Linked DNA regions of Homo sapiens. The protein of the gene in region 1 purifies or fractionates together with the protein of each later gene. This does not show direct contact. Each region holds a gene or a part of one and is shown on either strand. Other genes may lie near its edges. The genes, in order: PFN3 and POTEJ.

Region 1 (2,512 bases):
GGTCTTGGACATGAGCCCTCTCAGTAGGCTCCCCTTGGAGGAATGTGGGCAGAGATGCAGAGGCCTGTGAGCCCCAGAACTGCTTTACAAGCCACCAAGCCCATCCTGTCACCCACTCACAACTTGCTAGTGCTTGAGGTATGAGTGGAGGGGGGAGGAGCAAATTGGCCTCCAGCCTGACACCCTGATGGGGAGAGGTGTTCGCGGGATGGGGAGGGGGCTCCCTTTACTTGTCCTGCCTAATGTGTGGGAATATCTCTGAGAAAGGACGCTAAGGCTGAAACAGACTTTGAGAAGCCCCCACCCTTGGACTCTTCCTCAGCTGCGGAGTCCCTAGGACCCTGGGAACGCGCCAAGGAGCAGCAGTCAGGCCAGGAGCCTCTGCAAGGCGTCCATGGGAGAGCAGGGTGTAGGGCACAGGGGCCTGGCAGCCTCTAGACTCAAAATCCCGGCTCCACCAGGTAACCGTCTTGCAAAGACCAGTTTCCTTATTTACAACTCCCCCCACCGCGCAAGTGGAGGAGGAGCCAGCCGCGCCCAGGTCACAGTTTATTTGGCCCGCGCTACCAGTGGGCGGCCTGGCTGGCCGGCTAGGCGCCCTGCATGCGCAGCCCGCGTATGAGTTCGTGCACCGTCTTGTTGAGGATGCCCCCATGTACGCCGCGTCGGCCCATTAGCACCAGGAGCGCGCGCGGCGCACGGCCCACGCACACGGCGCGCGCGTCCAGCCCCTTGGTGCGTGCGTCCAGCACGCCGTCACCCTCGGCCAGCAGGTGGTCGCGGATGACGCAGCAGCGGCGGCCCCCCACGCTCAGGCCCGCCTGCAGGAAGGTGTGCCTGTCCGGCCCCGTGAGCACGCCCACCTCCTGCGGCGAGATGGCCGCCAGCAGGCCCCCGGGCCGCGAAGCCCACACGCAGCTGTTGTCCGCATGGCCCACGATGGCCACGTCGTCGATGCGCTGGTCCCGCAGCACTGCACTGATGTAGACCTTCCAGTCGCCCATCGCGCTCCGAGTGCGCCCAGCCGCCTCGCACCTCTCGGGGAAATATAGAGGCGCCACGCGGGGAAGGCCTGCGGCGCTGTGAGGCAGGCTGGGCGGGGCTGTGACGTCACACAAGGCGCCGTCCCGGAGCGACCACCCAGGCTGGGGCACGTGGGGCGTGGGCGTTTAGTGCTGTCGCAGTTCTAAGGTTATCCTGTAGGATGGGTTTGGCAGAGCGCAGCGGCTCACTCCTGTAATCCCAGCGCTTTGGGAGGCCGAGGCGGGCGGATCGCTTGAACTCAGTAGCGAGATTATAGTAAACTATTATAGGATCGTGTCGCTGCACGCCAGCCTGAGCCACAGAGCGAGGCCCCGTCTCTAAAAAAGCAAAAACAAATTTTAATTAAAAAAAATTTTTTTGAGATGAGGTCTCACTATGTTGCCCAGGCGGGTCAGGAAGTCTTGAGCTCAAACAATCCTCCCGCCTCAGCCTCTCAAAGTGACGAGATTACAGGCGTGAACCACCGCATCTGGCCAATCTATTTTTAATTTTAAAAAGCTGGTTTTGTGAAAAAAGGATGTTGTGTCTGGACAGCCAGACCTTCACTTGTAAGGGAACCAACCATTCAACCCCCAGATTGTGGTTCTTAAGCATGAGAGAACATCAGAATCCCCCGCAAGGCTGTTAAACAGATTGCTGGGCCCCACCCCAGACTTTCTGTTCAGCAGTATAAAGTGTAGCCCGAGAATTTGTTATGTGTAACAAGTTCCCTGGTGATGGTACTGCTAGCCAAGGGACTCTCAGACCCACTACACTAGTGCGTGTTGGGGTGGGGACAACGATATGTCACCCAGCCCTTAGGGTCCACGCCACAGTCAATGCTCTTTTTTTCTATTTTCTTTTTTCTTTTCTTTCTGTCTCTCTCTTTCCCTCCCTCTGTTCCTTCCTTCCTTCCTTCCTGCCGGTTCAAGTGATTCTCCTGCCTCAGCCTCCTGAGTAGCTGGGACTACAGGCGCACGCCGCCGTGCCCGGCTAATTTCTTGTATTTTAGTAGAGACGGGGTTTCATCGTGTTGCCCAGGCTGGTTTCGAACTCCTGAGCAATCCACCTGCCTTGGCCTCTTAAAGTGCTAGGATTACAGGCGTGAGCCACCGCGCCCGGCCAATGCTAAGTATTTCTAACCACGATTCTCAACCTTGGCTGTACATGGAATTATCTGGGGAGTTTTACAAATATACCACTACCCATGCCCCATCCCTAGACATACTGATTTAATTGGTCTGAGGTGGAACTTGGGCATAGATTGGCTCAAAACGCTCCCCAAGTGATCTTAATGTATGGTCTGAGAACTACTGCTCTGTAAACAAAATGTTAGTTTCTCATAAGGAATAACATGCAGCTTCTCCTTGCACAGGGCTTGGTATACAGTATCCTAGGCTCAGTAAACATTAGCTGGGCTGGCATCTAGATTTTGCACGTTAAGATCTCATAGACCTTGTTCTCTGAGAGCTGTGGAGAAGCTGTGAAT
Region 2 (3,831 bases), on another chromosome or scaffold:
ATCCACAAAGTTTGTGAGGATGAAGAACAGTGGTACTTATGTAGTTGTTTAAAGTTTAAGTTGCTGCAGCTTTTCAAACAGACACTTTAGTGGTAAGAACTACATTTTAAAAATGTGTATGCTTTTTACTTATCAATTCCATTATACTGAAATATCTTTACGAAATAGATGTGTTTTTCTTAGTATTGCTTAAAATAGCAGTGTATTTAGAAGAACCCATATAAAGATTTTATGAACAAATTTCAGTGCATCCATAGGATGGAATAATATGTAACTATTGAGGGTGTCAGTAGATACAGAGATATGTCGACGTGCAAAGATGTACTTTGCTATATCAAGTGAGAAAAAAATCAGTTTGTTACACATATACACGAACAGAATCTGCTCGTGTTAGCTGAAAATCTGTAGAAAATATGATCAAACTTGTTTCTGGGGATTTGTAAGTGAAGTTTTTCCCTTTCTCTTATCTGTGATTTCTGCAATGAACATCTGAAGTTGTAGTTAAGGTTCATTACTAATGCAATAATCCTTGGGAAGAGAAGGAATATGCTTCTTGCATAGATGCAAATAATTCCTCACATTCTATTATTTATTTTTATTTCTGTGGTTGGCTATTTTCTGTGAACTTTTACCCTCTTCAGAAGAAGAGGGGTCGTGTTTACCTGTTCCTGTAGATTTTATTATATATACATTTTATTCCATAATTATCTTTTCATTATATATAGATTAACATGTAAAAAGTATGAATTAATCATTTTAGTTGAGTTATATATTTATGAAAATTAAAATAGCAAATATAAATGATTATTGCTATTGCAAATGTATTGCGCTACTCTATAGGAGTTTTCTTTAAAAATATTGAACTCCCAAGCTGTGTTCATCCATTTTTCCTATCCATTTAGTCATCAGACATAAGCCAGACACCTATTATGTGGCAGGCATATTCTACTATCTCTCAGGATCCTTCCGTCTTTGAAAACTACATGTTTTCCTGCTGGGCTTGAGCAAGCTGAGAGATTTAAAATTGGGGCATTAGGACTTAATCTCAATTGAAGCTTTTCCTCCCTCCTTTCAAACAAAAGCATTTCTGGAGGTAGAAAATAGTAATAGATAACCTTTAACTGCCCTTTTGAAAATTTATGTCTTGGGGAAAAGACTGTTTTAGTTGTTTTAAGAACTAAAATGTGGTACATAAACAGCATGGAATAATATGCAGCCATAAAAGAAGGAACGAGAGCATGTCCTTTGCAGGGACATGGATGGTGTTGAAAGCCATTATCCTTAGCAAACTAACATAGGAAGAGAAAACCAAATACAGCACGTTCTCAATTACAGGTGGGAGCTAAATGGTGAGAACACACAGATACCTAGAGGGAAGGAACACACACTGGGGCCTATCAGAGGGTGGAGGGTGGGAAGAGGGAAAGAAGCAGGAAATAGAACGAACGGGTACTGGGCTTAACACCTGGGTAATGAAATAATCTGTACAACCAACCCCCTTGGTGCACATTTACCTATGTAACAAACCTGCACATCCGGCACATGTATCCCTGAATGTAAAAGTTGAAAAAAGCTCCACAAATAGTTTCATAAATCCATTTTAAAACAACAAAATTTATAACAGTCTTAAATCCTAATATGAATGATTGGAAATATCTGATGTACATACATTGTATAAATCTAAGTGTTGACAAAAATGAGCCCATGCTATTCATTTGAATTCCAAGTTTTCTTTGACTTAAAGTTTATTGAAAACCAAAGTAAGAATTGGTTTATTTTAGAAATTTGTTTTTGTTTTCACCTCTGCTCTCTTATTCCATAGTTCTTTTAGGAACTAAAATTTATCTAAATGCTGGTCATCTGACTGGAACCGCCCCAGACCTGTTGTAACATATTCTACTTAATGTAAGACACCAGGGATTGTATGATGCCCCATTATTTTATGCCTCAATAAGAGAATTATTTAAATGCCGCAAATTATAGTAAATCATGAATTGTAAGTGGTATTTCAGTGGACACAACATGGAGACAATGATCATCTCAGAATCACTAAAATACAATGTTAGCTGTAATATTTAAAACACACCTGAAAGTGCAGGTATAATTGTATCATCTCAATTCAAATGTTGTCTTTAGTGGTATTAGTAAAAATTAAAATATCTAACAATTATTGAGCTGTTATTTGTGTTAGGAACTATTCTATATCTTTTGTGCAGAGTCTCATTTAAGCATTACAGTGGTTTCCCGTAAGAAAGCTACTATTTTCATTCCTATTTTATTGATGAGGAAACTGAGACCCCAAAAGGCTAAGCAACAGCCAGGAAGTGACAGAGCTTCAAGTAGGATTCCAGCTCAAGTTGAATGTCATCCAAGGGCTATGCTCTTTGTATTCATATAGGATGCTCTTTCATTAATACAGCGAGTAAAGAGAGATAATAAATAGTGTGCTTTTTTCATGGGAAAGTTAAATGTTTGTTTTGAAGGCAGAGTAATAGCAGGCTATTCAGTGTTTGCAATTACATGAATCATTGCTATGGCTGTAGCTAGTGCACTACAATTTCCTAAAAAGTCTTGTCACTCTCATAGGACTGCTCTACATCTGGCCTCTGCCAATGGGAATTCAGGAGTAGTAAAACTCCTGCTGGACAGACGATGTCAACTTAATGTCCTTGACAACAAAAAGAGGACAGCTCTGACAAAGGTATGCAGTAGCCAACTATATCAGCATGAGGTGGGTTTGATTTCAATACATAGCATAAAAATGAGTTTTCTCCTTTAAATATAACTTAGGTGGTGAAAGCTGTGGAATGTTATTTTGAATTCCTAGGATTTGTAATTTGTTTTTGGTCTAATACTGACAGGCCGTACAATGCCAGGAAGATGAATGTGCGTTAATGTTGCTGGAACATGGCACTGATCCAAACATTCCAGATGAGTATGGAAATACCACTCTACACTACGCTATCTACAATGAAGATAAATTAATGGCCAAAGCACTGCTCTTATACGGTGCTGATATCGAATCAAAAAACAAGGTATAGATCTACCAATTTTATCTTCAAATACTGAAATGCATTCATTTTAACATTGACCTGTGTAAGGGCCAGTCTTCCATATTTGGAAGCTCAAGCATAACCTGAATGAAAATATTTTGAAATGACCTAATTATCTAAGACTTCATTTTAAATATTGTTACTTTCAAAGAAGCATTAGAGGGTACAGTTTTTTTTTTAATGCGCTTGTGGTAAATAATTTTTTTGAAAGCACTGAATTTGTAGAAGGTAATACTTACTATTTTTCAATTTTTCCCTCCTAGGATTTTTTTCCCCTAATGAATGTAAAATGGCAAAATTTGCCCTGAAATAGGTTTTACATGAAAACTCCAAGAAAACTTAAATATGTTTCAATGAATAGAGATCCTGCCCCTTTGGCAAGTTCCTAAGAAACAGTAATAGATACGAAGGTGATGCGCCTGTCAGTGGCAAGGCTTAAGATATTTCTGATTGCTCATGAGGCAGAAGTGGAAAGCGGAAAAGAGAGCAATCAGAAATATCAAGGCCAATTTGGAAATTAGGTAATAGAGGGAAAAGACCATGAAGAGGTTGTGTGTGTGTGTGTGTTGTCGTTGTTGATTGATTTGTTCCCTTTGTATGGTGAGACAAGGTTCTCTTCAATTTTAGAGAATGACAGTTTTCAGTTTGGGAGAGGGAGTTAGTGGGTTGTAAACTGAATAGAGATCAATTTTAGGAGGCCTCTGAGGAACCAGATTGGCAGTGAATAGGTGGTAATGTAAGGGGAAACCCTTGAGCAGAGGGAATATCAAGTAATTAA

Evidence for each region.
Region 2: the proteins of PFN3 (region 1) and POTEJ purify together in Homo sapiens (affinity purification with mass spectrometry; one large-scale study listed by BioGRID and IntAct). This does not show direct contact.

Annotation. Positions count from the first base shown.
Region 1 is NC_000005.10:177,399,573-177,402,084, forward strand, and holds PFN3 (profilin-3), read right to left. Parts: upstream 1,090-2,512; 5' UTR 1,005-1,089; coding exon 591-1,004; 3' UTR 537-590; downstream 1-536. UniProt on the Homo sapiens protein: Binds to actin and affects the structure of the cytoskeleton. Slightly reduces actin polymerization.
Region 2 is NC_000002.12:130,614,204-130,618,034, forward strand, and holds part of POTEJ (POTE ankyrin domain family member J), read left to right. Parts: intron 1-2,586; coding exon 2,587-2,701; coding exon of another isoform or gene 2,702-2,731; intron 2,732-2,861; coding exon 2,862-3,035; intron 3,036-3,831.